2 linked regions of the Homo sapiens genome follow. The protein of the gene in region 2 purifies or fractionates together with the protein of the main gene of each other region. This does not show direct contact. Each region holds a gene or a part of one and is shown on either strand. Other genes may lie near its edges. The genes, in order: PDCD10 and DMPK.

Region 1 (3,815 bases), on a different chromosome or scaffold from region 2:
TAATAAGACTTCATTATTGTTATCAGCTATACTTTCCAAAGTAATCTAATAGGAATTTCTTTAAGACAAATTTTTCTTTAAGCATCAAATCATTAAAAATTATTTACAAATTCTAATTAAGGAGGTCCTCCCCAAGAGTTGGTTAACCCAGGATTTCAATTAACTGACAATTCCTTGCTTTCTCTCAATAATATAACACAGAGAATCATACTCATCAGCTGGGCACGGTGGCTCATGCCTGTAATCCCAGCACTTTGGGAGGCCAAGGCAGGTGGATCACTTGAGGTCAGGAGTTCAAGACCAGCCTGGCTAATATGGTGAAACCCCATCTCTACTAAAAATACATAAACTAGCCAGATGCGGTGGTGGGCTTCTGTAGTCCCAGCTACTCAGGAGGCTGAGGCAAGGGAATTGCTTGGACCTGGAAGGCGGAAGTTGCAGTGAGTCGAGATCGTGCCACTGCACTCCAGCCTGGGCAACAGAGCGAGACTCTGTCTCAAAAAAGAAAAAAAAAAAAAAAAAAAAAAAAATCACTCATCAAACTCTTAGAGAAAATGGATTTTTACAAAGACTGTATAGATGGTAGTCTGGCCATTTAACAAAGCGGGGTGGGGTTAACATTTGCTGACACAGTTTACGTACCTTTTTAGGGCTTTCTCATGCCAAAATGCTGTTAGTCACTTCCAAACAAGAGACCAAGATTTAGAGGAGAAAGCTAGGAAAAAGGGAGGCAGAGGAATAGGGTAAGTCAGTGATCCTACTTAGAGTAAAATGAGCTTGATGTCTTAAGGATATACCTACATCTCTCTCCTTGACTTGCAAATTACATCTTCTATAATTCAATGTCTTCCATTTCCAGTTTTCTTAATAAAGTTAAGTGGAACCTAACCTCCCTGAACATACACTACTGTCAGTTTAGTACTTACAGAATTTTACACTTAGGGACATCTAGAAGCAATCTCTTGTTAATGGTAAGTGTATATAGCACTTTACCATTGTATCGTTTATATATATATATATATATATATATATATATATATATATATATATATATGCTTTAAAAATATTAAATGGACAATTTGTGCAGAAAGATACAGGGAAAAAGCATAAGCATTTAAAGTCTCAAAGCATGGGCTCAAATTCTGGTCCTGTCATTCATAAACTATCTTTGTCTCTGAACAAGTCATTTCACCTCTCTATCCTTTGGTTTCTTCTTTAATATGTCTGACAACTCTAGGGTACTTAGCAGCACAAGCTTGTGGATCTTCAACTTGGTGCTGCTGAGACTTCCAGCTCATCTTAAAAGTTAACTGCACCATGTCAAGTGTATGCACTTACATATTTTGTAGAGTACTGTTTTTTTTTTTTTTTTTTTTTTTTGAGACAGAGTTTCACTCTGTCACCCAGGCTGGGGTGCAGTGGCGTACCTCCACCCAGGTTCAAGCGATTCCCCTTCCTCAGCCTCTCGAGTACTGGGATTATAGGCACCTGCCACCACGCCTGGCTATTTTGTATTTTTAGTAGAGATGGGGGTTTCACCATGTTGGTCAGTTTGGTTTCAAACTCCTGACCTCAGGTGATCCACCCGCCTCAGCCTCCCAAAGTGCTGGGATTACAGGCGTGAGCCACTGTGCCTGGCCAGAGTACTGTTTCTTAATACAGAAATTTATAAAATGGGTAAGAAGTAACTTTTTCTACACATAGATAGACAGTATACAGCAGGAGATAGTGCTCAGTTTGGAAGGAAAAAAACCTCAGTTTGAATTTTTGCTCAGCTGGATGCTATCATTTCAGTTTTGTAAATCTCTATTTCTAAACTAGTGAGAAACAGAAATACTGAAGTACTCACTTCCCCAGATTAAGAGTACTAACTGCATATAAAATAGTTACTACAGTGGCTAACACATAATAACCATTCTATTCATATTGTTATTAATATTTTAGCCAAAATTCTAGGAACCTGACATGGAATCGATTGCAACTAGGGTGAGGCAAACCAGATGCCTAGAACACAAAATTTTGCTCTGATTTGCATGACTGAGAGAGTTAGTGCTTCTTCAAAGTTTGTACCCTAGGCATATCTCTTGCCTCACCCTAGTCCTGCCCCTGCATAACATACACAATGAGAGTCAAACACTGATATCACAATGTCATAAAGGCCACCTACATAGCATATTTTCAAAACCTTTTATCTCCCATTTGCCAAAATGGATGCATAAATACACTTAGTTTTGGCTTACATAAAAGAATTTGGCCATCAGGTGCATTTTAAAACTTTTTGCCAAACCAATGTTAAAATTACTTTTCTAAATGTACATAGATAAACTTAACAAAGGAAACCATGGCCCAGAAGCAGGCTGGGTAGCAGGCTGGGTTGCACACTGAAATCAAGATGTGATCAAAGCCCTTGAGATAATTCATAAAAGGTTTATAATCTGTACAAGATAATCAAAAGTTGACAACAAAATTAAAGAGCTCATTACCTCAGAATTAGCTGATGGGAAATGGAAACAGTAACAAAATAGTAACAATTGGCTCCTACGATATTTCAAAGCAACTTGTTCAGGGGGAAAAACATACATCTCTTTAGTTGTGACAATCCTCATTTTTTTTTCCTATGTCTAAATTTTTGGTAAATTCTGATCTGAGTAAAATTTAAATGAAAACACTTGTTGGAAGACAGGAAACAAATCTGTCCCCTTGAATATGTTCATCTTTTGCCCATAAAGTTCTCAACCTAATGGTTCATGAATAATGCCTAGTTGAATAGTTGTTTGGTGTTTAATTGAGGTACATGTCTATTTTCCTTTTTATTAGTATTATTCCTTGTCTTAGTTTCTCCAATACGATGTTAATTAAAGCTTTCCTTTAAAATCCCTTAGAAATTCAACTAAACTTAATTCCTCAGAGTGTTAGGTCCTCTCTGCTTAAAGGTACAATTAAAAGAATCTGTACCACCCTGGATCAGAGCTACTTGCTTTGTATCACTTATAATCTTAGATACCTAGAATTTAACTTAATGACTCCTAATGGCTTAAGATCCTCTAAAACATGCAACAGGTACTTTCATTACTTTACACAATTTCTTTGCACCAAAAACACTGCCACAGGGCACTCAAATGTTGACAGAAACTATTAGCCCCAGACAATAAATAGCCTCTGCCTTATTTAACATTAGGTGCTAATGAGGCCAAGGTTCTATCTTGATGATGACATTTAACTTTACCTTTAGCTCCCAATTGATCTCAAATACAAATACTATTTCTTACAAGAAGAAATTAGGGCTAGGATAGTATCTGTTTTTACTGCATCTACTGTTCCTCCTGTAACCTTCACTTCGCAAAAGTGTGATTTATTTTTTAAGGGAGCATACCAAAAATAAGGTAGAACCTTGGAAATCTCTCAAATTTTGACAGTACTGCATAAATACCGATTTTAATATGGATAAAGACATAGAGAAAGATGTGCAGTTCTCAATAAAAAAAAAAAAAGGATTCCAAATGCTTTGGAATTAAATGAAAAAAAGCCTAGCAACAATCTAAACTCGTATAGGGTGCAGTTGCTGTCTAGAGGCCAGGTCTGACTCATTTAACATTCCCAACTGGCTTCTGTTGTAGTAACCTTATATAAGTCTGAGGAGGCAGCCGGTGTGTAACATCTTAGGGTTTTGTCATTCCATAACTTCAATCTCAGTTGAATTCCAGTCTATCTTGAAGTAAGAGAGAATGACTGAATAAGACAGGGAGACCCATTTCAGTGCCAGGGACCAGATGGCAGTTAGAGAAACAATCATTTATTTTTCTATCAGCTCTAAC
Region 2 (3,815 bases):
ATTACAGGCGTGAACCACCTTGCCCAACCCTTTTTTTTTTTTTTTTTTTTGAGACAGAGTCTCACTCTGTCACCCAGACTGGAGTGTAGTGGCATGATCTTGGCTCACTGCAAACTCTGCCTCCCAGGTTCAAGCAATTCTCCTGCCTCAGCTTCCCCAGTAACTGGAATTACAGGCACCCGAGACCACACCCAGCTAATTTTCTTGTATTTTTAGTAGAGACGGGGTTTCACCGTGTTGGCCAGCCTAGTCTCAAAACTCCTGATCTCATGACCCACCGGCCTTGGACTCCCAAAGTGCTGGGATTACAGGCATGAGCCACAGCGCCCGGCCGCGGTCCAGCCTATTTTTTTTTTTTTTTTTTTTTTTTTCTGAGACAGAGTCTCGCTCTGTCGCCCAGGCTGGAGTGCAGTGGCACGATCTCGGCTCACTGCAAACTCTGCCTCCCGGGTTCACGCCATTCTCCTGCCTCAGCCTCCTGAGTAGCTGGGACTACAGGCGCCCGCCACCACGCCTGGCTAATTTTTTGTATTTTTAGGAGAGATGGGGTTTCACCGTGTTAGCCAAGATGGTCTCGATCTCCTGACCTCGTGATCCACCCGCCTCGGCCTCCCAAAGTGCTGAGATTACAGGCGTGAGCCACCACGCCCGGCCAGCCCAGCCTATTTTTTAATTTCAGTTTATCTTATTTTTGAGACAGAGTCTCTCTCCGTTGCCCAGGCTGGAGTGCAGTGGCACAATCACAGCTCACTGCAGCCTTGACCTCCTGGGCTCAAGCCCACGTCGGCCACCCTAGTAGCTGAGTATACAGGCATGCGCCACCACGCCCAACCAATTTTTAAAACATTTTTGTAGAGACGGGGGTCTCACCACATTGCCCAGGCTGGTCTCGAACTCCTGGGCTCAAGCAATCCACCCACTTCGGCCTGCCAAATTGCTGGGGTTACAGGCGTGAGCCACCGTGCCTGGCCCCATCATTTTTTCTTGTATCCTGTTGCTTCCCTTCAGGGCACCTGCCACACTCTCCATAATTCTCTAATTCTCTAGACTGCAACTGGATGAGGGCAGGGACCAGAGCTCATCTGGTCCGTGCTGGATCCCCAGTATTGTTCAGCAAAAGGGCACCCAGAGCCGAGCAAGCATGCCATGACAGCTTGTTACACGGTGAAGAGAGACGGCCTAAGGGAGGAGGAGTCCTCTCCTGCTTCTCATCCCTCCAAGTCTCAGCTCAGATAGCTCCCCACTCCAGAAAGCCCTCCAGGACCTTCCTTGCTGAGTCAGGAGTCCCCCACCCCCTGCACTCCATTGTCTCAGCCCTGATCACTCTGGGGCCTTACTGTCTGAAGACTGCTCTGTGTTCCCCCACTGGACTGTAAGTCTAGGTCACTGCTGGGTCCTCAGTAGTAGATGGGCACAGAGCAGGTGCTCTGGGGAATGAGTGATTCAGGACCCCAGAAGGTAGGCACTGTCCTTACTCCAACTTTATGGAGGGAGCATGGGGAGGTTCCCGCAGCCGAGCAGGGGCCACAGGTACCTACCCCGCCCCCGCTCACCATGGCAGTGAGCCCGTCCTCCACCAAGTCGAAGTTGCATGTGTCGGTGGCACCTTCGAAATCCGGTGTAAAGGGGGGCACGCTGTCCCGGAGACCATCCCAGTCGAGGCCAAAGAAGAAGGGATGTGTCCGGAAGTCGCCTGCTCCACCCCGGCCCAGCCGTGTCTCCGGGGGACACAGCAACCGCTGAATGAAGTCTCGAGCCTCCTCAGGGACCCCTTCGTCCACCAGCGGCAGAGAGAGGTGCTCCTGCTCAGAGGGAGAGGAGGCGATAGCCTGGGAGCGCCTACCGGGAGAGGCCAGGTCTCCCTGCGGCCGTGCTCACCTTGTAGTGGACGATCTTGCCATAGGTCTCCGCCGTGGAATCCGCGTAGAAGGGCGTCTGCCCATAGAACATTTCATAGGCGAATACACCCAGCGCCCACCAGTCACACTCGGGCCCGTAGCTGCCTGTCCCAGGCCCACCGCCCACAGCCTGCAGGATCTCGGGGGACAGGTAGTCTGGGGTGCCCACAGCCACCAGCGACCGCACCTGGACCAAAAGGAGCAGAGCGAGGCTTGGGCCCACCCCTCTGGGCCCACCAGCTCTGGGCCCTCCTTCCAACCACTCCCCAAATGCTTAGCCCCTCCCTCTGCCTGGTCTAATACTCCGCCACACAGATGCACACTTAAGCCTGGGTCACACCACCTCTTTTCCCCTCCAAATCCAGTCCCGCTCCCACACTCTGTGCCTTCCATCCCTCATCAGCAGCCCCAGTTGCTCTGTGGCCAGGGCACTGGCTCACCGTTCCATCTGCCCGCAGCTTGAGGCAAGAGCCGAAGTCGGCCAGGCGGATGTGGCCACAGCGGTCCAGCAGGATGTTGTCGGGTTTGATGTCCCTGCACGGAGGAAAAGAGAAGGGTGGGATAAATGAACCTCCCTTCTGTGGTCCCACCAGGCTCCGCCCCTCCGGGCAGTGCCACCTGGGACCCCACTTCCTCGGGTTCCGCCCCTGTAGGGCTTCTACAGTTCTGACCCCTACTCCCAGGCACCCCCCGGTGGGCCCCAACCAAGAAGGTCCCTCTCCAGGCCCTGGCCTCTCTGGGCTCTGACCTTCCAAGAACCCGGCCAGGGAACAAGCTTGCTATCCCCTCGGCCATGCTGCACCCACCTGTGCACGTAGCCAAGCCGGTGCACCGAGTCTATGGCCATGACAATCTCCGCCAGGTAGAAGCGCGCCATCTCGGCCGGAATCCGCTCCCCAAACTTGCTCAGCAGTGTCAGCAGGTCCCCGCCCACGTAATACTCCATGACCAGGTACTGAGAAGGGGTTCGTCATGGGTGGTTGGTAGTCCCCTGAGGCCCTGATCCATCACGGATGGCTGGGACAACCCCTCCCAGAGACACCCCATCCTTGGGCAGAGACCTGCAGCCCCAGCCCAGAGATAACCATAGAGATCTGCCGGGCCAAATCAGAGACCACCTGCGGCCCCCGCCCCCGCCCCTCAAAAAAAAACACAAACAAAAAAACTTTCCTGGGATGTCACTGGGCAGATTCACTCCCCCTGAGATGTTCTGGGAAAGAGAACCCAGAGGCCACCCAACACCCAGAGAATAGGTCCCAGACACTCCTTCCCTAGGCAGTGGCCCCGTTAGAATTCCTGAAGACCTATCCCATTCCAGGTAAGAGACCCCCCGCAACAGAGACATCTTTATAAGAGTCCCCCAGATCACCCCAGAAACGGGCAGTGAAGGACACCATCCCCGTCTCAGATAGGGAAGGCCCCTCATCCACCTGACACACCCTCTTACCGCACACAGACTTTCCCACAGACGTTTCCGGGCAGCACCCCCAATCCTAGAGCTTCCTCTCCCCACCTCCTCGTCCAGTGACAGCACGGGCTCTTGTCCCTCTTCCTAGTCACCCCGGCCCGGAGCTCACCAGGTAGTTCTCATCCTGGAAGGCGAAGTGCAGCTGCGTGATCCACCGCCGGTCCCCATTCACCAACACGTCCCTCTCCTCACGGAAGCACGACACCTGCAGGGCACCCGGAGGAGCTGCAGCCGGAGACGGGGCGCGGATCCTCAAAGCCCCCCACGTCCGCCCAGCCCCTCACCTCGCCCCTCTTCAGCATGTCCCACTTGTTCATGATCTTCATGGCATACACCTGGCCCGTCTGCTTCATCTTCACTACCGCTACCTGAGGTCGAGATAGTGAGACAGAGTGGAGACGGCGGGAAAACAAAAGGGCTCGCCCAGACCCAACTCCACCCGCTTCTGC

What was found.
Region 1: the proteins of DMPK (region 2) and PDCD10 purify together in Homo sapiens (affinity purification with mass spectrometry, with the first as the bait; one large-scale study listed by BioGRID). This does not show direct contact.

Annotation. Positions count from the first base shown.
Region 1 is NC_000003.12:167,724,759-167,728,573, forward strand, and holds part of PDCD10 (programmed cell death protein 10), read right to left. Parts: intron 716-3,815; exon of another isoform or gene 643-715; intron 1-642. UniProt on the Homo sapiens protein: Promotes cell proliferation. Modulates apoptotic pathways. Increases mitogen-activated protein kinase activity and STK26 activity. Important for cell migration, and for normal structure and assembly of the Golgi complex.
Region 2 is NC_000019.10:45,775,789-45,779,603, forward strand, and holds part of DMPK (myotonin-protein kinase), read right to left. Parts: exon of another isoform or gene 3,735-3,815; coding exon 3,651-3,734; intron 3,572-3,650; coding exon 3,476-3,571; exon of another isoform or gene 3,346-3,475; intron 2,854-3,345; coding exon 2,705-2,853; intron 2,433-2,704; coding exon 2,339-2,432; intron 2,086-2,338; coding exon 1,879-2,085; intron 1,803-1,878; coding exon 1,539-1,802; intron 1-1,538. UniProt on the Homo sapiens protein: Non-receptor serine/threonine protein kinase which is necessary for the maintenance of skeletal muscle structure and function.